Regions from separate parts of the Homo sapiens genome. Here all the other regions are linked to region 2. The links come from fine-mapping of genetic effects on gene expression. A gene starts in region 2. Each other region holds a variant in brackets. All regions are shown on one strand. Distances are from middle to middle.

The links. PIP is the estimated chance that this variant, and not a neighbour inherited with it, causes the effect.
Region 1: its variant is fine-mapped to the expression of ZNF547 in whole blood (TOPMed, PIP above 0.99).
Region 3: its variant is fine-mapped to the expression of ZNF547 in monocytes after Pam3CSK4 (Quach 2016, PIP 0.95). The same link has a PIP of 0.9 or more in monocytes after LPS.

What each region holds. Positions count from the first base shown.
Region 1 is chr19:57,441,478-57,449,659 of GRCh38, reverse strand. ZNF749 (zinc finger protein 749) reads right to left here. Exons shown (of 3, transcript NM_001023561.4): 2 at 7,649-7,775; 3 at 2,559-6,369. The coding sequence ends at 4,175. Among named protein-coding and RNA genes, the nearest start is that of ZNF749, 10 kb to the right of the region's middle. The variant A/C (reference allele first, on the strand shown) is at 4,200.
Region 2 is chr19:57,359,472-57,367,653 of GRCh38, reverse strand. It overlaps ZNF547 (zinc finger protein 547), which reads right to left and starts at 4,103. Exons shown (of 4, transcript NM_173631.4): 1 at 3,951-4,103. ZNF304 (zinc finger protein 304) reads right to left here. Exons shown (of 3, transcript NM_020657.4): 3 at 7,756-8,182. It overlaps TRAPPC2B (trafficking protein particle complex subunit 2B), which reads right to left and starts at 4,103. Exons shown (of 2, transcript NM_001355204.2): 1 at 3,951-4,103; 2 at 2,249-2,839. The coding sequence starts at 2,820. The coding sequence ends at 2,398. RefSeq lists enhancers at 4,051-4,430, 4,471-4,550.
Region 3 is chr19:57,268,773-57,276,954 of GRCh38, reverse strand. ZNF460-AS1 (ZNF460 antisense RNA 1) reads left to right here. Exons shown (of 3, transcript NR_136529.1): 2 at 1-20. Among named protein-coding and RNA genes, the nearest start is that of ZNF460-AS1, 7.5 kb to the left of the region's middle. RefSeq lists silencers at 3,600-3,894, 4,933-4,992. The variant A/G (reference allele first, on the strand shown) is at 4,623.

The DNA.
Region 1 (8,182 bases), 82 kb before region 2:
AAGCCTCTAGCAAGGGCCTCAACAGTGGACAGAAACATTATTCTTTTAAAAGAATTATGTATCAAAACACCTTGGTACTAGCACAAATGCATACATATAGTGGAATAAAGAGGCCAGACGGAAGTCCTCATACTTATGCTCAGATTTTTGACAAGAGCGCAAAAACTTATTAAGGAGTCTTTTCAACAAATGACTTTCAAAAAGCTGGATATCTATATGCAAAAGAATGAAGTTGAACTCTTACCTTCCTCCATTTACTAAAACAAACTGAAATAAATCAGACATAAAAGTACAACTTAAAACTATAAAACTCCTAGAAAATAACATGAAAAAAGGTTCATGACACTGGATTTAGCAATAATTTCTTGGGTATAATACCAAAAGCATAGGAAACAAACATAACATATATTGGACTCCATTGAAATTTGAAAACTCCTGTGCAAAAAAAAAAAAAAAAGACATGAACAGAATGAAAAGGAAGCAGACTGAATGGTAGACAGTATTTGAAAAACACATATCTGCAAGGGGTTAATATTTAAAATACGTATACAGAATATGTACATATATAATACGTACATGTTAACCACTCAACAAAGTATATATACTTCACATCATGTTGTACACAACAAAAGCATACAATGTTATCTGAAAATTTACAAAAACTTTCTTCAATGGGCAAAGACATTTAACAGATATTTCTCCAAAGAACCTATACAATTAGTCAACAAGCAAATGAAAAGATGCTCAACACCAATACTGAAATGCAAATTAAAAAACCATAATAAAATAACATCTTACACCCATCATGATTAAAAAACAAAGTGTTGGCAATAATGTGAAAAACTAGAACCCCTGCACTGGTGAGAATGTAAAATGGTGCAGCTGCTATGGAAAATAATTCCCCCCACAATTTAAAATAGAATTAACGGGAAGTGGCCAGGCGTGGTGGCTCACGCCTGTAATCCCAGCACTTTGGGAGGCTGAGGCGGATGGATCACAAAGTCAGGAAGATCAAGACCATCCTGGCTAACACGGTGAAACCCCGTCTCTACTAAAAATACAAAAAATTAGCCGGGCGTGGTGGCGGGCACCTGTAGTCCCAGCTACTTGGGAGGCTGAGGCAGGAGAATGGCGTGAACCCGGGAGGCGGAGCTTGCAGTGAGCCGAGATTGTGCCACTGAACTCCAGCCTGGGTGACAGAGCAAGACTCCGTCTCAAAATAATAATAATAATTATTATTATTATAATTATTATTATTAACGGGAAGCACCATTTCCACTTCTGGGTATATGTCCAAGAAGAATTTAAAGCAGGGCCTCAGGAGGTATTTGTATATTCATGCTCATAGTGGCATTAACAAGAACAGAAGAGTGGAAGCAACCCAAATGTACACTGAAGAAAGAATACAGGAAAAGTGGCATATACATATACCACAGTCATATGCCACACATTTCTGTCTACCATGGACCACATGTATAACAGTAATCCCGTATTATAACAGAGCTAAACAACTCCTATCACCTAGTGCCACCACAGCCACTGTAACTCAATCCCATTACTCAAGTGTGTGTGGTGACACTGGTGTAAACAAACCTACTGGTCTGCCAGTCATATAAAGAGCACAGGCCGGGCGCTGTGGCTCATGCCTGTAATCCCAGCACTTTGGGAGGCCGAGATGGGCGGATCATGAGGTCAGGAGTTGGAGACCAGCCTGGCCAACATAGTGAAACCCCATCTCTACTAAAAATACAAAAAATTAGCCGGGCATGCTGGTGGGCACCTGTAATCCTAGCTACTCGGGAGGCTGAGGCAGGAGAATCGCTTGTACCCGGGAGGCGGAGGTTGCAGTGAGCCAAGATCACACCACTACACACCAGCCCAGGCAACAGTGCAAGACTCTGTCTCAAAAAAAAAATAAAGCCAGGCGCGGTGGCTCATGCCTGTCATCCCAGCACTCTGGGAGGCTGAGGCGGGCGAATCATGAGGTCAGGAGTTCGAGACCAGCCTGGCCAACATAGTGAAACGCCATCTCTACTAAAAATACAAAAAATTAGCTGAGCGTGGTGGCAGGCACCTGTAATCCTAGCTACTCGGGAGGCTGAAGCAGGAGAATCACTTGAACCCAGGAGGCAGAGGTTGCAGTGAGCCGAGATTGTGCCACTGCACTCCAGCCTGGCAACAGTGCGAGACTCTGTCTCAAAAAAAAAAAAAAAAAAAAAGTGTGAGGCAAGGCTTCAGAAAATATTCCAGAATATTGTTATCATAGGAGATAACAACTCCCTGTTATTGAGCCTGAAAACCTTCTAGTGGGACAAGATGTGGAGGCAAAAGACAGTGATATTAATGATCCTCACCCTCTGTAGGCCTTGACTAATGTGTGTGTCTGTGTCTTCATTTTTAACTTATTTTTTACGAAGTTAAAAAATTAAATAGAAAAAGTTTATAGAATATAAAGGAGTACTTCTATACAGGCTGTATAATGTGTTTGTGTTTTAAGCTATTATTACAAAAGAGTCAAAAAGCTTTTTAAAATTTTAAAAGTTCATGAAGTAAAAACGTTACAGTAGACTAAGGTTAATTTATTACTAAAGAAAAAATTAATTTAGAGTAGCCTAAGTGTACAATGTTTATAACATCTACAATAGGGTACAGTAATGTCCTAGAGCTTCACATTCACTCACAACTCACTCCCTGACTCAACCAGAGGGGTCCCGCAAGCTTCGTTCATGTTAGTGCCCTATAAAGTTTTTACCATTTTTCATACATTTTTACAGTACCTTTTGGAAACTTAGATATGTTTAGATACACATTTACTTATCATTGTGTTTCAATTACCTACAATATTCAATACTGTAACATGCTGTTAAGGTTTATATCTGAGGCGCAATGGACCATATCATATAGCCTAGGTGCGTAATAGGCTGTGCCCTTCAGGTTTGTGTAAGTACACTCTTTGTTCACACAATGACAAAATCACCTTAAGATGATTACTCAGAACACAGTCCTCTTGTTAGGCGACACATGACTACAATGGGATTTTATTCGGCCTTTAAAAAAGATGAAAATCATAAGCTATGCTACAACATGGATAAACCTTGAAGACATTTAGGGAAATAAGCCTCAAAATAAGTCACAAAAGACTAAAACTTAAGTTTCCTCATATGAGATATTTATAGTAAAATTCATACAGTAGTATTGTCAGGGGCTGGTTGGCGTAGGGAATGAGGAAGAGGAGTAGTTTAAAGCAGCGGTCCCCAACCTCTTTGGCACCAGGGACTGGTTTCATGGAAGCCAATTTTTCCACGCATCAGGGACAGAGGAGGGGGCAGACAGTTTCAGAATAAAACTGTCCCACCTCAGATCATCAGGTATTAGTTAGATTCTCATAAGGAGCACACAACCTAGATCCCTCACAGGCACAGTTCACAATAGGGCTCAGGCTGCTATGAGAATCTAATGCTGCTCATCTGACAGGAGGTGAAGCTCAGGTAGTGATGCTGGCCCGGTTCCTAACAGGCCACAGACTGGTACCAGTTTGCAGCCTGGGGGTTGTGGACCCCTGGTTTAAAGGGTATAATGTTTTAGTTTCATTAAGTTGAAAAAACTTCTGGATATTAATTGACAACAATGCGAATGACTTAACACTACTGAACAGTACAGTTAAATATGGGTTAAGATGGTAGATTTTAAGTTACCTGTAATTTGCCACAATTATAATTTTTTTCTTTTTGAGACAGAGTCTCGCCCTGTCACCCAGGCTGGAGTGCAATGGAACAATCTCAGTTCACTGCAACCTCCGCCTCCCAGGTTCAAGTGATGCTCCCTGCCTCAGTCCCCTGAATAGCTGGGATTACAGGCACCTGCCACCATGCCCAGCTAATTTTTGTATTTTTAGTAGAGATGGGGCTTCACCATGTTGGCCCGGCTGGTCTCAAACTCCTGACCTCAGGTGATCCACCCACCTCTGCCTCCCAAAGTGCTGGGATTACAGGCGTGAGCCACCACGCCTGGACATAAATGTTTTTAATGTAGTTCCCAGCAGGAAATCCTCGCAGATTTCCATCTGAACTCTTTCAACATTAGATTTACATATATTAATAGGTTCTTGGTCCGATGTGAACCTTTTGGTGCTGAATGAGGTGACAGTTTTGGTGACTTTCCTGCATTCACTCCACTAAGGCCTTTTTCCAGTATGAATT[A/C]TCTGATGTTTAATGAGGCTGGAGTTGTATTTAAACACTTTGCTGGATTCACCACACTCATAAGACCTTTCTCCAGTGTGAGTTTTTTGGCGCTGACCAGTATTACATTTGTTGAAGTCTTTCCCACATTCCCTTAACTTAAAAGGACTTTCTCCAGTGTGAGACTGCTGATGTATAATAAGGCTCGATTTAGTCCTAAACAATTCCCTACATTTACTGCACTCATGAGGCTTCTCCCCAGTGCAAACTTTATGATGTTTAATGAATGTAGAGCGGTATCTAAGAAACTTCCCACAGTTGCTGCATTCATAAGGCTTTTCTCCAGTATGAACTCTCTGATGAATAATGAGTTTGTAGCTATCTCTAAAAAATTTCCCACATTCACTACACTCATAAGGTCTTTCTCCAGTGTGAACTTTCTGATGTCTACTCAGTGTACAGCGATATCTAAAGAATTTCCCACATTTGCTGCATTTATAAGGCTTTTCTCCAGTGTGAATTCTCTGATGAATAACAAGTTTGTAGCTGTCCAAAAAGAATTTCCCACATTCATTGCATTCATAACGCCGTTCTCCAGTCTGGATTTTCTGGTGACCATCTAGATGAGCCTGTGTAAGGAAGGCCTTCCCACATTCACTACACACATAAGGCCTTGGCCTGAGGTCAATCCTCTTGTGTTGAATGAGGTCAGACCTTTTTGAAAATGCATCAGTGTGGATTTTCTCATGCTGAACTAGGTGGGACTTTCTAACAAAGGCCTTCGCACATTGAGTGCATTCATAAGGCCGTTCTCCAGTATGGATTTTCTGGTGACCAACCAGATGAGCCTGTGTAAGGAAGGCCTTCCCACATTCACTGCATGTATAAGGCCTTGGCCTAATGTCAATCCTCTTGTGTTGAATGAGGTCAGACCTTTTTGAAAATGCATCAGTGTGGATTTTCTGGTGCTGAACTAGGTGGGACTTTCTAACAAAGGCCTTCTCACATTCAGTGCACTCATAAGGCCGTTCTCCAGTATGAATTTTCAGATGCTGAACAACATTATGTTTGAGGCTAAAGGCTTTCCCACATTCGCTACACTTATAAAGCCTTTTGCCAGCATGAACTCTCTGGTGCATATTGAGTGTGGAGCGGTGACTAAAGAATTTTCCACATATGCTGCATTCAAAAGGCCTTTCTCCAGTATGAACTCTCTGATGTCTACCGAGTGTGAAGCTGTCCATAAACAATTTCCCACATTCACTGCACTCGTAACGCCTCTCCCCAGTGTGAACTTTCTGATGTCTGATGAGTTTGGAGTTATACATAAAAAACTTCCCACACTTGTTGCATTCATAGGGCTGTTCTCCAGTATGGGTTTTCTGGTGACCAACCAGATGAGCCTGTGTAAGAAAGGCCTTCCCACACTGGGTGCATTCATAAGGTGTTGGTCTACTGAGAATCTCCTGATGTTCAATGGGGTCAGACCTTTTTGAAAGAAAGCCTTCACTGTGAATTTTCTGGTGCTGAACTAGGTTGGACTTTCTAATAAAGGTCTTTCCATATTCAGTGCCCTCATAAGGCCTTTCTCCAGCATGATTTTGCTGATATTTAATAAGGTTGGAGTTGTACCTAAACAATTCCCCACATTCACTGAACTCATAAGGCCTCTCCCCATTATGGGTTTTTTGGTGCTCAAACAGCCCATGTTGGTGGCAAAAGTCTTTCCCACCTTGGCTGGAGTTGAAATCATTCTGTTCACCTTGAAAGGCTTCCCCATCCTGGGTATCCCTGTACAGCTTCCACCCACTGTTTAAGACCTGTTGCTGGAGAAGGTCTGAGCTGGCAGTAAAATCCTTGCCACCCTGCGTGCATGTGAAGTTCCTCTCTCCCACGTGAGCACTGTGGTTCACAAATGAAGGCCTCCACTCATCACTTCTGGTGAGCTTCTCTCTAATCTGCTCCTTTTGGTGCAGGTCATGCTCTGCTGCACATGTGTACAGCCCTTGCTCAGGGTGTGTTCCATCGTGCTCAGCCAGGTGCAGAATGTCCTTCAGAATTGAGCTACACATCTTGCAGGGCTGGGCCTTCAGGGTGGACAAAGCTGGCTTTGGAATTGTGACCTGTAACACTCTTACAGAAACACACTGCTTGGAAGGTACCTCCTCATCCTTGGCTCCATGCCAACAACCTGTAAGAACAGAAATGCTGGTGAAGTGCACGTGAACTCCGGAGGGAGGAGACAGCCCCATCACAAATGTCTGTGAGACACACCCACAAATGAGGGCACAGGACTGGTCACAGGCAAGGAAATAAGGCCAGTGAGAGGAAGGCCCAGTGTTCAGAGGTGGGCCTGTGAAGTGTGTGTAGTGGGGGAATCCTGGTGGTAAGGACACAAGGGAGAAGTACCATGCAGGGAGGGCAGGTGGGGTCTCCAACTCACTCCTCTATAAATGGCTTTCAACAGGCCATGACGGTTGTGTCCAGATCCAGAGAGATCTGATTGTGTGAGAGCGAGTATTCATGGACTACTGAAGGATACACGCAGACCTCATAACACCTAAAGTACAGGTCATACATTAGACAGCACTGCAAAGGGAGAGGTGGAAGAGAATGGTGGAGAGATGAAGGCTGGAGAGGAGGGGTCAGAGGTGGAAGCCAGGGGTCAGAAGTCAGAGTAAAAATAACAACAGGGAAGGAAAGGAAGAGTGACGAGTGGCCAGTGGCCCTGCATCAAACAATAGTGGTCACAAGGTAAGTTCTCAATGTGATTTGAACCCAGCCTTGATATCACATCCTTTCCCAGCTTTCACCCACCAGGGCCAAGTCCTTCTGAGTGTCTCTTGCCATTAATAGAGGACTATCCACTCTGCCAGGCACCCAGAGACCTCCCCCTTGCTCAAGGTGAGCAACTATCTAGCTGCGGCATAAGTCCAGCTACGGGAAAGGCAGGGAAAGGGAGGGGACAGCATGTACACAGAGCAATAAACCCAGGACATGCTGCATTCTAAAGCTACCAGAACACCCAGTAGAGCGTCCTGCAGAAATAACTTCACAATCCTCACAAGTGGTGACCAGGGAGGTGCCTGAAATTCCTAGCACAGACACTGTCTCCAAGTATGTCAGCAAGGGGAACAGGGAAACCCTTGGACAGAGGTTTCACACATTTGGACAGAGTAATCAAACCAGGGACAGGCACCGCCATTAGGATATCTTAAAGAAACCTGAAGATTTCTGACTTCCGAGCCTTATCTTGTAAAGTTTCAGAGCAACAGAAGCTGGGGCTGCTTAAGGGGAGGTGGTACAGTATACACAGCCCAGCTCTGGCTGCCTTATCACATTTGCCAGGAAACCAGGAGAGGACAGGACGTAGCACTCACAATCTGGTGTGGGAAAGACAGAGTTGTCATGGAAAAGAGCAAAAAAACAGCACCCAGCACAAGACACCAGAGTAGGTATGAAGGCCTTACCTACTGATGACAAAAGCGCAAAGTTCTCCAACATCACATTGCTGTGCAGGTGTCTCTGAGCATCATTAAGGATCCCCCATTCCTCTTGGGAGAAATATATGGCCACATCCTCAAAGACCATACAATCCTGCCAAAATTATGACACTTCAGTCTATGAACAACTTCTTATTCTGTGTTTCCTTAGATCTGTATTTATCTACTTAAAATCTAAGAATTGGAGGGCCAAACTAACAGCCAATGTTTTTACATTTCCCTTGCGATCCAGATCCCATATGCTGAACCACTATCTAATGCTCATACATGATTATTTCTCCTGTCCTAATCAACACAAGCCCTGTCACCACACAATAAGGGATAATCTCTTAGCCCTAAGGCTGCCAGACTTATGCAAACCACTGAGTTTTAAGCTCCTCATCCCACCCTGCATGCCTTTCCTGCCAAAACCCCAATACAGTCTCTGATATATGCTTTCCCTTCAGTCATGCCTCTGCCTCCTAACCAAATCTAGTATTTCCCGTGGCCTGGTGCAGCACG
Region 2 (8,182 bases):
CTCCCTTTTTCTAGGCAGAGGACAAAATCCTTCCTATGGCAGGTCTGCGCCTTTCTAAAGTAAGCATCTGGCTTATGGCTCCACCTATGGTGTGAACCCCAAGTATCAGCTCTCTCCTCCCTCACCACATAGCTTGCAGGCAATGACCTTTAGACTTCCCTACCAAATTGGATCCTCAGGACCCGGTCCAATCTACACCCTCTATTCTTTTTTTTTTTTTTTTTTTTCTTGAACAAACCATTTAAGAAATCAAATAGGGTAAAAATGAAGGTAGCAATTTTACACAAGGATATAAGACAAAGCTTAGAATTACTTGCTGAAAAGTTATTCAGAATGGAACAAAATTGTTCAAGTGCTCCCAGTTAGCACAGGTTGTGTTACTTGCTTTTCAATGGACATTTACTATTTTACAGTAAGATCTACTTATCATAGGAACAAACAGACAATTCCCAGCCCCCTCTGGTGTATTGCCTAAAAGGCTGAGTACAAATGTTAATGTAATCCAAGCTTTTCTTTGACAACAACCCTAAAAATTGCCTTACAACTTTTCACAAGTACAGGCATCAACAGTTGATTGTCTGAGGGAAAGGAAATATAAGAATATAAAGTGACAGAAGCAACACACTTCACTGTGGCCTGGAACTGCTCCCAGCCTCCTATTTTACAAACATGATTCAGGTTCTCACATTATAGCAAGATCACTATTCCTAGCCTCTGGCAGAAGCAGACATGTGACACTTAGCACTGCACAAGTGTTTCTTTGGCTTCTTGAGTAGTGCTATGTATACTGCCAATACATTTTTATAACATCTCTAAATGCATAACGTCCACGTATGTGCTATGACATTTCACTTCCAATGGCAGAATATTTTAGTTTTAAATCTATCTACCAAATCTTGACTATGACATTTGTTTCTGGATTGTTATAAGATCAACCTATCTGGGCCGGGTATGGTGGCTCACACCTGTAATCCCAGCACTTTGGGAGGCTGAGGCAGGAGAATCGCTTGAAGTCAGGAGGCAGAGGTTGCAGTGAGCCAAGCGCCACTGCACTCCAGCCTGGACGACAGAGCAAAACTCCACGTCAAAAAAAAAAAAAAAAAAAACAATTTATCTGAATTGGGCAAGTCGAAAGCTTATTCCCAGCCAGGCGCAGTGGCTCACACCTGTAATCCCAGCACTCCGGGAGGCCGAGGCAGGCAGATAACCTGAGGTCAGGAGTTCAAGACCAGCCTGGCCAAAATGGCGAAACCCTGTCTCTACTAAAAATACAAAAATTAGCCAGGCGTATGCCTGTAATCCCAGCTACTCTGGAGGCGGAAGGAGAACTGCTTGAACCCGGGAGGCAGAGGCTGCAGTGAGCCAAGATCGTGCCACTGCACTCCAGCCTGCATGACAGGAGCAAGACTCCATCTCAAAAACAAAAAAACAAAAACATACACACACACACAAAAAAGCTTATTCCCAATTTTTAAGTAAAAAATATTTCATGGCCAGGCGCAGTGGCTCACACCTGTAATCCCAGCACTTTGGGAGGCCGAGGCGAGCGGATCACGAGGTCAGGAGTTCAAGACCAGCCTGACCAATATGGTGAAATCCCGTCTTTACTAAAAATACAAAAATTAGCCAGGCGTGGTGGTGCATGCCTGTAATCCTAGCTACTTGGGAGGCTGAAGAAGGAGAATTGCTTGAACCCGGGAGGTGGAGGTTGCAGTGAGCCAAGATCGTGCCACTGCACTCCAGCCCCTGCACAACAGGAGCCAGACTCCATCTCAAAAGAAAAAAAAAAAAGAAAGAAAGAAAGAAAAAGAAAGCTTATTCCCAATTTTTAAGTAAAAATATTTCATGGCCGGGAGTGGTGGCTCATGCCTGTAATCCCAGCACTTTGGGAGGCCGAGGCAGGCAGATCACGAGGTCAGGAGTTCAAGACCAGCCTGACCAACATGGCGAAACTCCGTCTCTACTAAAAATACAAAAAAAATTAGGCAGGCATGGTGGTGGGAGCCTGTAATCCCAGCTACTCGGGAGGCTGAGGCAGAATTGCTTGAACCTGGGAGGCGGAGGGTGCAGTGAGACGAGACTGTGCCACTGCACTCCAGCCTGGGCAACAAGAGCAAAACTCCGTCTCAAAAAAAAAAAAAAAAGAAAGAAATTAATTATTATTGATAATGAGTTCTTTATAAATAACATTGTTCACAAGGAAATACTAATTGATCTACTGATATGTGACATGAGACAGAATGTACTATTTTTAAATATAAAAGAAATTTCATTAAGTTTAGATAAGCTGAGAATACACAAAAGATTTCCAGGCTATTTAATCAAGTAATTTACAATGTACACATTCCTGAGTATACACCATTGTGGTGATATAATTTATTTTGGAATTTTCTCCATTCAGCTTAAAAGGTGTTTCTTCCCAAGAAACTGAACTTTTCTGTCAAATGCACTTGATCGAATAGGAGAATTGGGTTCATAAAATGGATTCATTGAAAATTTTATATATAAATCATAAACATCAGTAAAGAAGTTCTTTATTCCATCTTCTTGTCTTATGTCATGAAGCATAATAAACCTCATATGCCCCGCGGTGACAAATGCTGACACAAACCACTCGTTGAACTTGTCCACAGTTTTCAAGTACATGTTGTTCGACAGCCACATGTTCTCATCTACGAGGTCGAGAGCAGCATGAGCTATGAACTGGTTCAGATGACGATGGTCGTCTTTGGATTCTGCCTTCCCAGCTGGCAAAAACTCCATTTCAAAAACTGGATTATCATGGTGACCAACAATTACAAAGTAGAAGCTTCCAGACATGGTCTTCAATATATGGCTCCTGCAGCGGGAGGCCGACAACGGAAACGCAATGTCAGTTTCCGCGGAAGAGACCCGCGCTCCGCACCTTTTTTTGACACGGAATCTCGCTCTGTCGCCCAGGCTGGAGTGCAATGGCGCGATCTTGGCTCACTGCAATCTCCACCTCCTGGGTTCAGGCAATTCTCCTGCCTCAGCCTCCCGAATAGCTGGGATTACAGGCGCGCGTCACCACCCCCGGCTAATTTTTGTATTTTTACTAAAGACGGGGTTTCACCATGTTGGTCAGGCTGGTCTTGAACGCCTGACCTTGTGATCCGCTCGCCTTGGCCTCCCAAAGTGCTGGGATTACCGGCGTGAGCCACCACGCCCGGCCACCCTCTATTCTTTTGAAGAATCTACACCAGTTCTCCTCTGTAGACTCCACACCTTTCTGTCCCCCTACCCATGTGACATTTTCAACTTGAGACGCCTGAGAATCACACTGGCCAAACTCCAACCCATGATCTTCTCCATGAAACCTACTTCTCATGCTGCTGACTTCCCCAACTTCATTCTTTCAGATGTTCGGGCAAAAAAAAAAAAATGACCCTTCACTCCCTATTTTTGCTCACAGACATATCTGATACGGCAGGAAAACCTGTTGGCTCTATCTTCCAGGTCTATCCAGAATCCCATCACATTGTCCCTCTTATACCACGGCTCTGGTGCAGCCTCTGGGATCCACTGCAGTGGCCTCTTCTGGGTCTCTCTGTGTCAATTCCCCATCCTGCTCGTTCTAACTCTGGACCTGCCCCTCCCACTGGTCTTCCCTTGACAACCTTCCATGGTTATACCGGCTGCTCAGGCTGCCATTCCAAGAGAAAATTCACAAAACCCTCTCTTTCCCGCAGAAACAACCCACACTCCGGGCTCCCCGACGCGGCCCACTTGGCAGCACCTCCATGCTCTGAACCTGAGATCCCCGAAGGGAGCTCTGAGGCTGCATCAAACCAGCTGATACGGGGACCCCACACAGGAACGCCCCTCTCTTCGAGACAAGGGGCCTGACCTGCAGGGCCCCTTCTATGGGCTTCAGCACTGGAAGGAGGGGTCGGGCGGAGGTGGGGGGGGGCCTGGGACGGGGCACCCACCTCGGGTTCTTCGGCGGGGACTCCGCAAGTCCAGCCAGGGAAGAGAGGGGCGGGGGCGACAAAGGCAAGACAAGGACACCGCCGTCCCCAGTCCTTGTCAGCTGAGCTTCTGCCACTGTCAGTTGTGCCTGTGTCACTACCGCCTCTGCGTACAAGGAACCAAGCCGCTTCTCGCGCTTTTCCGCTCCGTCACTTCGGTGACGTCATAGAGCGCCAAAGGCCGGAACTAGTGAAAACACCAGAGAAAATCAAATCAACCACGGCAAGAGGACGCCGGAAGTCCCGCCCTCCTACGATGCGCGAGCACGAGGACGGACGCACGCACGCACGCACGCACGCAAAGGTTCCTTCCTGCACATTCATTGGGTCAGTCGCGCTGCCGAGAACCGCAGTGTCTTCTGGGTTATGAAGTTTCGACACCGCTTCTGGACTTGCCTTAGAGCGTTGGTCAGTCCTTATATGGCGGATAGAGGCTCAGTGGCACCGTCAGGGGAGCTGGTAAACAGAGTGCCGGACTCCACGGACAGGACGGGGCTTGGGTTGCTCTTAAAGGCGACATAACCAGATTTTCTTGAAGTAAGGTCTAGGATACTCACAGAAATGTGAGGGACCTATGATATCGGATTGTGAAGCACAGCAAGTTCTCAACGGCTACACCGCCAAAGGGACACACTATACCACAAAGGCACTCTGTCTCTACTCATGCCTCTCAGCCATATGTTGCTTTTCAAATACACATACAGTTAAACTTTGACTTCTATTTATTAAGCTTCAATATGGTTGGTCCAAGAGAACAAAGAAAGACTACATGGCTGGGAATTTGCACAAAAGAAGACAGGAGATACCGACGTAGATTGAAAGGGTGACGCTGTGCCTCTGGATCCAGAAGAAAACATCATTACTGTCTGTAGAGTCAGTGATTGTGTTCCTACCAAGAGTGCAATGCTTTTATTCTAATAATACTTATTACTTCATGTCTGAAATATTTTACATTTATTTTAAAAGTCTCAATCCTGTCTGAAAATGAGAGTGACTGATACATGCCATTTCCTGACAGGACATTTTGTGCCATTCCATAGTTGGAGTATATGTACACAGGGAACGTATTATCCCCAATAAAAACTGTGAACTTTCATGATCTTATCTCCTTCCTGAGAAGTGAGTTATCATTTTACAGGGAGTTGAAATTATCTGTGAAAATACTTGTGAAATGAAAATTACAGAAATCTATTAATAATAACTGTTAGGTTTTGAAGGGAAGGCGAGGGTTAAAGAAAGGCAGAGTTGGCAGCTCTACAGCAATGCAGGTTTTATGTCCAGCACGAGACCTGTGATGGGGAGAACTAGCTTAGTGCCAGAACCCCTCACTGCTTACAGGCTGGGGCAATTATAGGCCTGGATGAGAGGGGTCAGGGGTGGGGGGCAGGGGGCGCGGCGGGAGGGTATGACTTGCTGCCCAGGAGGATGGTGGGTTTTTTTTTGTTTTTGGAGGAGTCTCGCTCTTGTCGCCCAGCCTTGAGTGCAATGGCGTGATCTCGGCCCACTGCAACCTCCGCCTCCCGGAGTTCAAGCGATTCTTGAACTCCGCCTCCCGAGTAGTTGGCTTTACAGGCGCGTGCCACCACGCCCGGCTAATTTTTTTGTATTTTTAGTAGGGACAGGGTTTCACCATGTTGGTCAGGCCAGTCTGGAATTCCTGACCTCAGGTGATCCGCCCGCCTCGGCCTCCCAAATTGCTGGGATTACAGGCGTGAGCCACAGCACCCGGCCAAAGGATGTGCGTAAGATGTTCCTGAGGCAGTTTGGCCTTTTATCCGGCAGGATGTGATAGTGACCTTCCTTGGATCTTTTCCCAGAACGATGTGATAAGAAAGTCAGGCAGTTGGGCAGGATGTTTCTCAAGGCCCTCACTCCGTGGAATGCTTCACTCTGACCAAGGTCTGTGAGATGGCAGGGGGCTTACAGGATGGTGCAGTTTGGACTAACAGTGATTATGTTATTTCAAAACTAGTGGCAGAAATAGTCCTACAGAAATCTCTCTGTGACATGTGAAGGGGGGAAAAAGCAAGGTTACAGTAGAGTTTGAGCAAGAGTCTGAGAAGTCAAAGAATGAAGTTGAGACTGGCTGTGCTGGAACCTGGACACATTATGCTTCTGTCTCCTATATGTATTTCTTATTTCATACTTGAAAACATCGCTTATTAACTGTTTGGAGGGATAGAGATAACAAATGGAAACACTTGTCAAAAAATAAAAATGAAGGCCGGGTGCGGTGGCTCACGCCTGCAATCCCAGCAATTTGGGAGGCCGAGGTGGGCGGATCACGAGGTCAGGAGCTCAAGACCAGCCTGGCCAACATAGTGAAACCCTGTCTCTACTAAAAATACAAAAATTATCTGGGCATGGTGGCGGGTGCCTGTAATCCAAGCTACTTGGGAGGCTGAGGCAGGAGAATCGCTTGAACCCAGGAGGTGGAAGTTGCAGTGAGCAGAGATCGCGCCACTGCACTCCAGCCTGGGTGACAGTGCAAGACTCCGTCTCGAAAAATAAAAATAAAAATGAGTAGGCAATCTGTGTGATGATGTGTATTTACTGCTCTACAAAATGTTCAATGAGCACGTACAAACTGGGTTTCAGGTCAATGGTAGGTATATGGGACACACCGGGAATAGGGCTGCCAGCTGCTGTGTGTATACAGGACTGTTATGTGTTTCCTTAGATTCTGTATTTGTCTTTTTGGTATTCATAAATCACAGGTTCAAGCTAACAGCCAAAGTTGTTAACTTCTCTGTCTGCAAGCCACTTACTCAGAGGTGTGTGAAACTCACATAAAAAAACCCCAGCCAGGCTGGGCGCAGTGACTCACACCTGTAATCCCAGCACCTTGGGAGGCCGAGGCAGACAGATCACCTGAGGTCAGGAGTTCGAGACCAGCCTGGCCAACATGGCGAAACCCCATTTCTGCTAAAAATACAAAAATTAGCTGGGCATGGTGGCGGGTGCCTGTAGTCCCAGCTGCTTGGAAGGCTAAGGTGGGAGAATCGCTTGAACCCGGGAGGTGGAGGTTGCAGTGAGCCGAAATCATGCCACTGTACTCCAGCCTGGGCAACAGAGCAAGACTCCATTTCAAAACAAAACAAAACAACCCTGCCTTTAAAAAAGATACTTATTGTGTGTTATTAGGGAATTGCAAATAAAAGCAACAATGGCATACCACTACACACCTATTTGAATGGCATTTTAAAATCCAAAATACTGAAAATGCCAAATGCTGATTAGGATGAGATGCAAGAGGAATGTTCAATCATTGTTAGTTGGATGCAAAAATGGTACAGCCACAGCCCGTTGCAGTGGCTCACCCCCGTTATCCCAGCACTTTGGGAGGCCGAGGAGGGTGATCACTTGAGGTCAGGAGTTTGAGACCAGCCTGGCCAACATGGTAAAAACCCATGTCTACTAAAATAGGTGGAGGTTGCAGTGAACCAAGATCATACCACTGCACTCCAGCCTGGGTGACAGAGTGGAGACTCTGTCTCAAAAAATATATATAAATAAAATAAATGGTGCAGCCGCTTTGGAAGACAGCTTGGCAGTTTCTTACAAGACTAAACATGCTATATGACAGAGAAAATTGCACTCCTTGGCACATATCCAAATGAGTTGAAAACATCTCCACAGAAAAACTATACAAATATGTAGTAGGTTTATTCATAACTGCCAAAACTTGAAAGCAACCGTCCTTCAATAAGTAAATGGATAAAGAAACTGAGGTGTATTTATAGAATGGAATATCATTCAGCCATAATTTGCACACAAATCTTCAGAGGTTTATTTGTAATAGCCAAAAACTGAAAGTTACCCAAACATCCATAACAATTAAGTTGACAAAGAAGAAAAATTGTGGTATACAATGAAATACTGAAATACTACGCAGCAATACAAATGAGCAAACAATTGATTCATGCAACAAGATAATGGATTAACCTTAAAATAGTTATGTTTACTGAAAAAGCCAGAGCCCCACCCCCTAAAAAGTACACACCATATGGTTTCATTTATAAAATTATAGAAAATGCTTGCTGTTGCTTGTGAATTGTGGAAAACAAGATAAGGAAAAATTGAGGATTATAAAGGGACAATCTTTTGTTGTGTTGGATATCTTGACTGTGGTGGTTTCATAGGTGTACACACATGCTGAAACAGCACATTTTACACTTTACATATTTGCAGTT
Region 3 (8,182 bases), 91 kb after region 2:
CCTGGCATGCCAGCAAAAAGGTAAGAATTTGTTACCAGTCAGATTTCTGACTTCTCCCTCTCTGTGCAAACGGTTGAATGAATGGTAAAAATAATAACAATAATAAAAATAATAAATCAGTGTGTATCTCCTCTGTAAAGTTTTGATTAATATGAAAAAGAATTCTAAGCTAGTCAAACTGGTGTATTTTGTGCTGTGAATTTGTTTTTCTGTAGGATGAAACATGGGCTTAGAACACCTGTGAGCCCACTTTTCAACATGACCCAGCAAACTGGTCAGTAACAAACAGCTGCAGGTCCCTGAAACAAACAAACAGGATGAAGTCTCCCCTTGTTTTATGTCCTTGGGAGCCTGACCTTTTAACCATGTGGCAGTACCTTCTCTTGGTCTCCACCTACTAGGGAAAAGGAATTTTAGGGTTCATGTCATAGTCAGCTCTAAAAATCATATAAAATAGTTAAAAGCCTTTGCAAGCTCAAAATTAACTACTCTAGGCTTCTGTGAAAGGAAGTAGGCACCGTCCCACACTGTAGCTCAGTAACTAAGGTTTCTGCACTTTCACAGTGGCAGTTTGGGTTTGATACCCCACCTAGGAAGTAAGTCATTTCTGGTTTAATATCTGCGTGACCTTGTCTAGTCTCTTCTCCTCCGCAGACTGTCTTAAATTTTCCTTTCTCTATGCACGTAGGAGATAACCTTTGGTAAAGTTCAGAAGTTAGAAATATTGGCTTCTTGGCATGGCTAAAGTTGGGTAATAAGAGATTTGAAAGGATTTCTTTTTTAAAGAGCACTATGGTTAAAAGTTAGCTTAATTAAAAGTGGATAGGCCAGGTGTGGTGGCTCACGCCTGTAATCCCAACACTCTGGAAGGCCAAGGAGGGCAGATCACCTGAGGTCAGGAATTCGAGACCAGCCTGGCCAACATGGTGAAACCCCGTCTCTACTAAAAATACAAAAAAATTAGCTGGGCGTGGTGGCGGGTGCCTATAGCCCCAGCTACTCGGGAGGCTGAGGCAGGAGAATGGCGTGAACCCGGGAGACGGAGCTTGCAGTGAGCTGAGAACGCGCCACTGCACTCCAGCCTGGGCAACAGAGCGAGACTCCATCTCAAAAAAAAAAAAAAAAAAATGCCTATGTGGAAAATAATTATTCTTGCTGCACTTTATATAAATAATCAGGCCAAGTATAATAAAGCAAATCAAATCAGTCTTACCCTAATTTGTCTTTAGTAAAAATGGGAAACTGGAGAGAGAAATATTATATTTCAAGAACTATGGTATACTTGTTATTAAATTCTAGTCTCATTAGTTCTTTTTAAGTTTGTTTCTGCAATTTAAGCTACCCTGCTTATTCCTGTGAACCAACATCTCTGACTGCTGCTCAGAAAAAATAAGAGGGATGGGTAATGTAAAAATCTGGATCAATATTCCAATTCTGGGCACATTATAATCAGCTAACAACCCCATGCCAGCTTAGTTCCAACAGTTGCTCAGTTCATGAAAAGCCTTCTAATTTAGTTTACTTAGAATAACTTTACTTATTTTGCTTTACTCTTGTGGAATATATTGCTGTTATACTCTTTGTGTAGGAATACAGAACAAGCTTACTGAATGTTTCCTTTTTTTTTTTTTTTTTTTTTGATGGAGTCTCACTCTGTTGCTCAGGCTGGAGTGCAGTGGCGCGATCTCGGCTCACTCTGCCTCCCGGGTTCAAGTGATTCTCCTGCCTCAGCCTCCTGAGTAGCTGGGACTACAGGCGTGAGCCACCACGCCCCACTAATGTTTTGTATTTTTAGTAGAAACGGGGTTTCATCATGTTAACCAGGATGGTCTTGATCTCCTGACCTTGTGATCCGCCCACCTCAGCCTCCCAAAGTGCTGGGATTATAGGTGTGAGCCACCGCACCCAGCCAGAAACTCCTGTTTTTAAAACTATCAGATCTGGTGAGACTCCTTCACTATCATAACAGCGCAGGAAAGACCCTGCCCCATAATTCAGTCACCCCCCACCGATCCCTCCCATGACAAATGAGAGTTGTGAGAGTTACAATTCAAGATGAGATTTGGGTGGGGACACAGCCAAACCATATCATATGGGGTCTCACTATGTTTCCCAGGCTGTCTGTGAACTCCTAGGCTCAAGTGATCCTTCGGCCTCAGCCTCCCAGGTAGCTGGGACTACAGGTGCACACCACCATGCCCAGCTTGGAAATCAAATTTCAACATGAGTTTTGGTGGAGACGAACTATTTCCAAATCTTAGTATCTCCCTTACCTTATTTGTATAAGACGGGATTCACAAAACACACATAGAAGCACTTACATTTGATTTTTAATATATGTATTGCTAAGGTGAGCACTTACTTGATTTTTCAGAAATTAAAACCAGTAATTAATAAGGCTCACCCATAAATAAACAAGGAGAAGAAACCAATCTTAAAGAAGAATTGCAAATAGTATACATAGATACCAACAGCCCCCTTCAGACAGTGGAGCTTTGTGGTCTTCCCCTTGAGTTGGCTGGATTTAGTGACTAATTGTGGAAAATGAAAACAGTAACTTGACAGGGGAAACCTGGCAGACAAGTACCTAACCAAGTGATCAAGGTTAGCATCACTTAAGTCATCTTTTTTTTTTTTTTTTTTGAGATGGAGTCTTGCTCTGTCTCCCAGGCTGGAGTGCAGTGGCGCAATCTCAGCTCACTGCAACCTCCGCCTCCCAGGTTCAAGCCATTCTCCTGCCTGAGCCTCTTGAGCAGCTGGGACTACAGTTGCACGCCACCACGCCCGGCTAATTTTTGTATTTTTAGTAGAGACGGGGTTTCACCATGTTGGCCAGGATGGTCTGGATCTCTTGACCTTGTGATCCACCCGCCTCGGCCTCCCAAAGTCCTGGGATTACAGGGCGTAAGCCACCGTGCCTGGTCCATTTTAGTCATCTTGACATCACGTAACACCTACTATGATGATACAAGGAGGACACTTTGCCAATCTGATGTTCTTCCCCTTAACCCACAATTCTAGACTAATAATGAAAAAATACCAGACAAATGCAAATTAAGGGACATTGCATTATGAGTACTCCAGAAGTATGTAGATCATGAAAAACAAGAAAAGACAGAGCAGCTGTCACAGATGGGAGAAAACTAAAGCGATGAGATGATTAACTGAAATGTGGTGTCCTGGACTGGATCCTGCAACTGGAGGACATTAGTGGAAAAAAACTGGTGAAATCCAAATACAGTGTGTAGTTCAGTTAGTAGTAGTAGTAGTATACCATGTTAATTTCTTAGCTTTGACAAATATGTCATAGGCTTATGAAGTATTAACATGAGGTGGAGCTGCATGAAGTTATATAGGAACTCTGTAATATCTTTGCTTCTTTACAGCTAAAATTGTCAGAAAATAAAAAGTTTAAAACAAAAAAAGCAAGGAGAGACTTCTGGCGTGACAGCATAAGGAGCTCTGTGGGCCTATTCCCCAACAAAACTGTTGAAAATTATTAAAAACAAAAATGAAAACAAAAAAAGTCGTGTCTCTGGAGATAGTCCTAAGGATATACATCAAATGAAAAAATATTTATTCAAGAGAATCTGTCCTTCTGTAAGAACTGCGAGAGTCTGTGGTATTTGAACCAAGACTATCTCTTTCCTTCAGCCCTCCCAGTTCAATGATATGGAAACTGTACTCTACAGTGTTGCAGACAAGAACACAGGGCTCTCCCTCTCAGCTTCCATACAGAGGGCTGTCTTCCCAGCAGGGTAGGATGTCAGCATTTCTTATCTTGCCACCAGAAACTTGCTGAGGCTAAATCCCTAGTGAGTGCAGCCCCAGAGGCAGGAGCTCCCTTCCTCCACCCATCCAGTGTTGGTGAGATGAAGGCCCTTCCTTGGGCATCATGATGCTGAGCACTGGGGATTCATCACACTTGCCCCACTGAAAGTCTGTAGTAGTGTACCATGACAGGGCAGCTGAAAAGACATGAGACCACTGGCCACCCGCTACCACTGAGCACTCAACCCTCAAAGCAGGATGTCAGAAGTGGGCCATTGTTCCCACTCCCAGCTTTAGAACCCAGATCCAGAGATACTGCCTGAGGGGACAAGCAGAGAGCCTGGAAAGAAACATGTGGAGGTACGCCAACCTGAGGTAGAACAAATATCAAACAGTTTGGGAACCCAAACAGCCTGATTTTTTTTTTTTTTTTTTTTGAGACGGAGTTTTGCTCTGTCACCCAGGCTGGAGTGCAATGGCGTGATCTCGGCTCACTGCAACCTCTGCCTCCTAGGTTCAAGCTATTCTCCTGCCTCATCCCAAGTAGCTGGGATTACATTTTTGTAGTTTTTAGTAGAGACAGGGTTTCACCATGTTGGCCAGGCTGGTCTCGAACTCCTGACCTCATGTGATCCACCCGCCTTGGCCTCCCAAAGTGCTGGGACTACAGGTGTGAGCCACCGTGTTCGGTCAAGCCTGATAAAAAGCTTTGGAGCAATTTATGCCTCTGGGTATTGTTGAAAGTGGTGTCATTCTGTACTCTCTTCTCAAACCACATCAGTGGTCTATAGTGGAAGAATCAAGAATACCAGGCTCTCTGGTTATGAAGGTAATATATGGGTTCCAACCCT[A/G]AAATTCATCTGGAATCTGCTGCTTCCTCTTCATCTCAAGTCTCACTTCATAGGGAATCCTTTCATAACTAGTGTTTGCTCCAGTCAGCTTCTCCTTTCATTCCTTCTCCCTTCATTCCTTTCATTCCTTCTCCTTTCATTCCTTGTAGCTTCTCCTTTCATTCCCTGTAGAATCTGTCTTGTTCTCATGGAGTCAGGAGCAGAAATACATCTCAGGGCCAAAACCATGACTTTCAGTCTTGAACTGGAAGTTTCCCCTGAAGCCATAGGCTGGTTGCTGAGAGAAGAGAAAGGGAAATGGCCTTAACAGCCAGGGGTGACCCCGCAGTCCTACAGTAACAGTCCTACAGTGGTGCCAGGAGACCATGGGGATTTCACAGCATTATTATAAAATCCACTCAACATTCACTCTACAAATACTTCTTAGAGAAGCTGAGGGAAGGCACTTTGCAAGATGATGTAAAAGATACAGTGTTGAGCCAGTGCCACCTGGATTGTAGACATGTGGTCCAGGTAATGAGTCTCAGCTTGTATCAACCATTCCCTTCTCATAGAGGCCTCTCCAGATCTCTTACTCTTTTTTTTTTCTTTTGAGATGGGGTCTTCCTCTGTAACCCAGGCTGCAGTACTGTAGCAGGGTCATAGCTCACTGCAGCCTCCACCTCCCAGGCTCATGTGATCCTCTCACCTCAGCCTCCTGAGTAACTGGGATCACAAGCCCACACCAACACACCCAACTAATTTTTTTTTTATTTTTTGTAGAGATGGGGTCTCACTGTGTTGCCCAGCTCCTCTCAAAACTCCTGGGCTCAAGTGCGGATCTCTTAATCTAAAGTAGCTCCTCCGGCCAGGTGTGGGGTCCTGTAATCCCAACACTTGGAGAAGCCGAGGTAGGAGGAACACTTGAGCCCAGGAGTTCAAGACCAGCCTGGGCAACATAGTGAGACCCCGTCTCTGTGAAAAATTTAAAAATTAGCCAGGCGTGGTGGTGGGTACCTATAGTCCTGGCTACTCGGGAGGCTGAGGGAGGAGGATCACTTGAGCCACGGCGGTTTAGGCTGCAGTGAGCCATGATTGTGCCACTGCATTCCAGCCCGGGCAACAGAGTGAGAGAACCTGTTTGTTTAAAAAATAATAACAATAATAAAAATTTTAAAGTAGTCCCTCACCCCAATATTACTCTGCTCTATTTTTCTTTAGGACATTCATAACCATTTGAAAATATATTTTTATATATTTACTAACTTTTAATTAATTAACTCAACAAGTACTTGACTATCTTGTGATAGGCTCTGCTCTAAACAGTGGAGATACAGAGCTGGGCCTGGTGGGTTTGTTCCTGTAGTCCTAGCTACTCAGGACACTGAAACAGGAGGATCGCTTGAGACCAGGAGTTTGAGACCAGCCTGGGCTATCTAGCGAAACCCTGTTTCTAAACAAAAAAACAAAAAGTCACAATGGAGACACATACATACCACACACACACACACACACACACACACACAAAATAATAATAATCCAAAACTCCTAAACAATATAGAAGGTTAGGAGTGTTGCGGAGATAAGACAAACTAGAGCAGATTAAGAATCAGTGAGAGTGGGATAAAGCCAGTTGTGCAATACAGAGTGGTTGGGACAGGTCTAATAGGACAGTTAGGCCGGGCGTGGTGGCTCATGCCTGTAATCCCAGCACTTTGGGAGGCTGAGGCAGGCAGATCATGAGGTCGGGAGATCGAGACCATCCTGGCTAACATGGTGAAACCCCGTCTCTACTAAAAATACAAAAAATTAGCTGGCCGTGGTGGTGGGCCCCTGTAGTCCCAGCTACTAGGGAGGCTGAGGCAGGAGAATCATTTGAACCCGGGAGGCAGAGGTTGCAGTGAGCCGAGATCACGCCACTGCTCTCCAGCCTGGGCGACAGAGCAAGACTTCGTCTCAAAAGAAAAAAAAAAAGTGATGTTTTAGCATGGACTTGGAGGAATTAAAGACTCATCAAGTGGAGATCTCAGGAAACAGTGTTATCACTCAGAGAAAACACACAGGACAATGGAACTGACAGAGCATCCTGGGTGTTTGTGGAACACCAAGAAGCCTAGTGCGGCTGGAACTGAATGTGCATGGAAGTTGGAGAGATAGATGGAAACAAATTGTGTAGTCTTTTATGCCAGCGTAGAGAGGTTGTAATATGTTCCTGTGTGTTCAAAAATGTACCTGGGGTTTTTTGCAGTATGGTCTGATAAGAAACTCGGACATGCAAATGATTGCCAGGAAGGAAGAACTTTCAACTCACGGAGTTTTAGAAACAGTAGGCAAAACACATCCTGCAGGGCTATGTGAGAAGCACCAGGGTGGTATAAGAAGCAGAAGCAGAGGAGAAAGCAGAGGCCAGATCCTTTATTGTTTTCCACAGGAAAAGAAAGGCAGGGCTGGGTAACCAGAAGAGGATTTGCTGGTTTGAATAAAGTTGGTAGACTTTGGGGTCTAGGAGCTGTCCCTGTCTGCCTAGTACCTGGCCCTGGAGTCATTAGAGCAAAAAAAAAAAAAAAAAAAAAAAATTGTCTCCTGTAGTGTAAGAGCCAGACAGAGGAGATGATTCACATTAGGGTACTCTGGATTTGTTAGTATGCAAATAAAAGGCATGGTTCAGAGTGAGTCATTTGCAATCTCTAAGAATCAGTTAACTCTAAATGGCAAGGTCCCAAATTCCATAGCATCAACAATGCAGAAAATAAGAAAATATAGCTAATACACTGTGAAATGGGTAGCCATCATGGGGTTTTGAGCAGAGCTGTGATGTTATCTGATTTATGTTTTTGTTTGTTTTTTGAGACGGAGTCTTGCCCTGTCGCCAGGCTGGAGTGTGATGGCGTGATCTCGGCTCACTGCAACCTTCTCCTCCTGAGTTCAAGCGATTCTCCCACCTCAGCCTCTGGAGTAGCTGGGATTAGAGGCATGTGCCACCATGCCCGGGTAATTTTTTGTATTTTTAGTAGAGACAGGGTTTCACCGTGTTAGCCAGGATGGTCTCGATCTCCTGACCTCGTGATCCACCCGCCTCAGCCTCCCAAAGTGCTGGGATTACAGGCGTGAGCCACTGTGCCTGGACTGATTTATGTTTTAAAAGGATCACTCTGGGTAGTCTATGGAAATTGGAATATGGGAGGGGCAAGAGGGAGAAGTCCTGTTAGGGAGCTCTGGCTCTTTCCAGATGTGCAAGGTGGAGGATAACTTAAGCCAATGTAGTGAGAGGGGAGGTGGTTTACCACAAAGTACAATTAACAGTAGATCAAGGAGAACAATGAGTAATTGAATTGATACAAATATATGGAAAAGTATGAATGGCTTTATGGGATGGATTGTTGTTTCTAAATCTATCCATTCCCCACACGAGCTGCTCCAGTGGCTCAGCATGTTCATGATGATACTGCTGATATATCTTATATAAATGTTATACTAAATGTAGATGCTCAGTAAATATGATTGTTTTGCTGTAAGAGATTCTAGGCTAGGGCCAGGGCTTTGGTTATACACGAAAGTGTGAACTCATCAGGCTTCAGTTG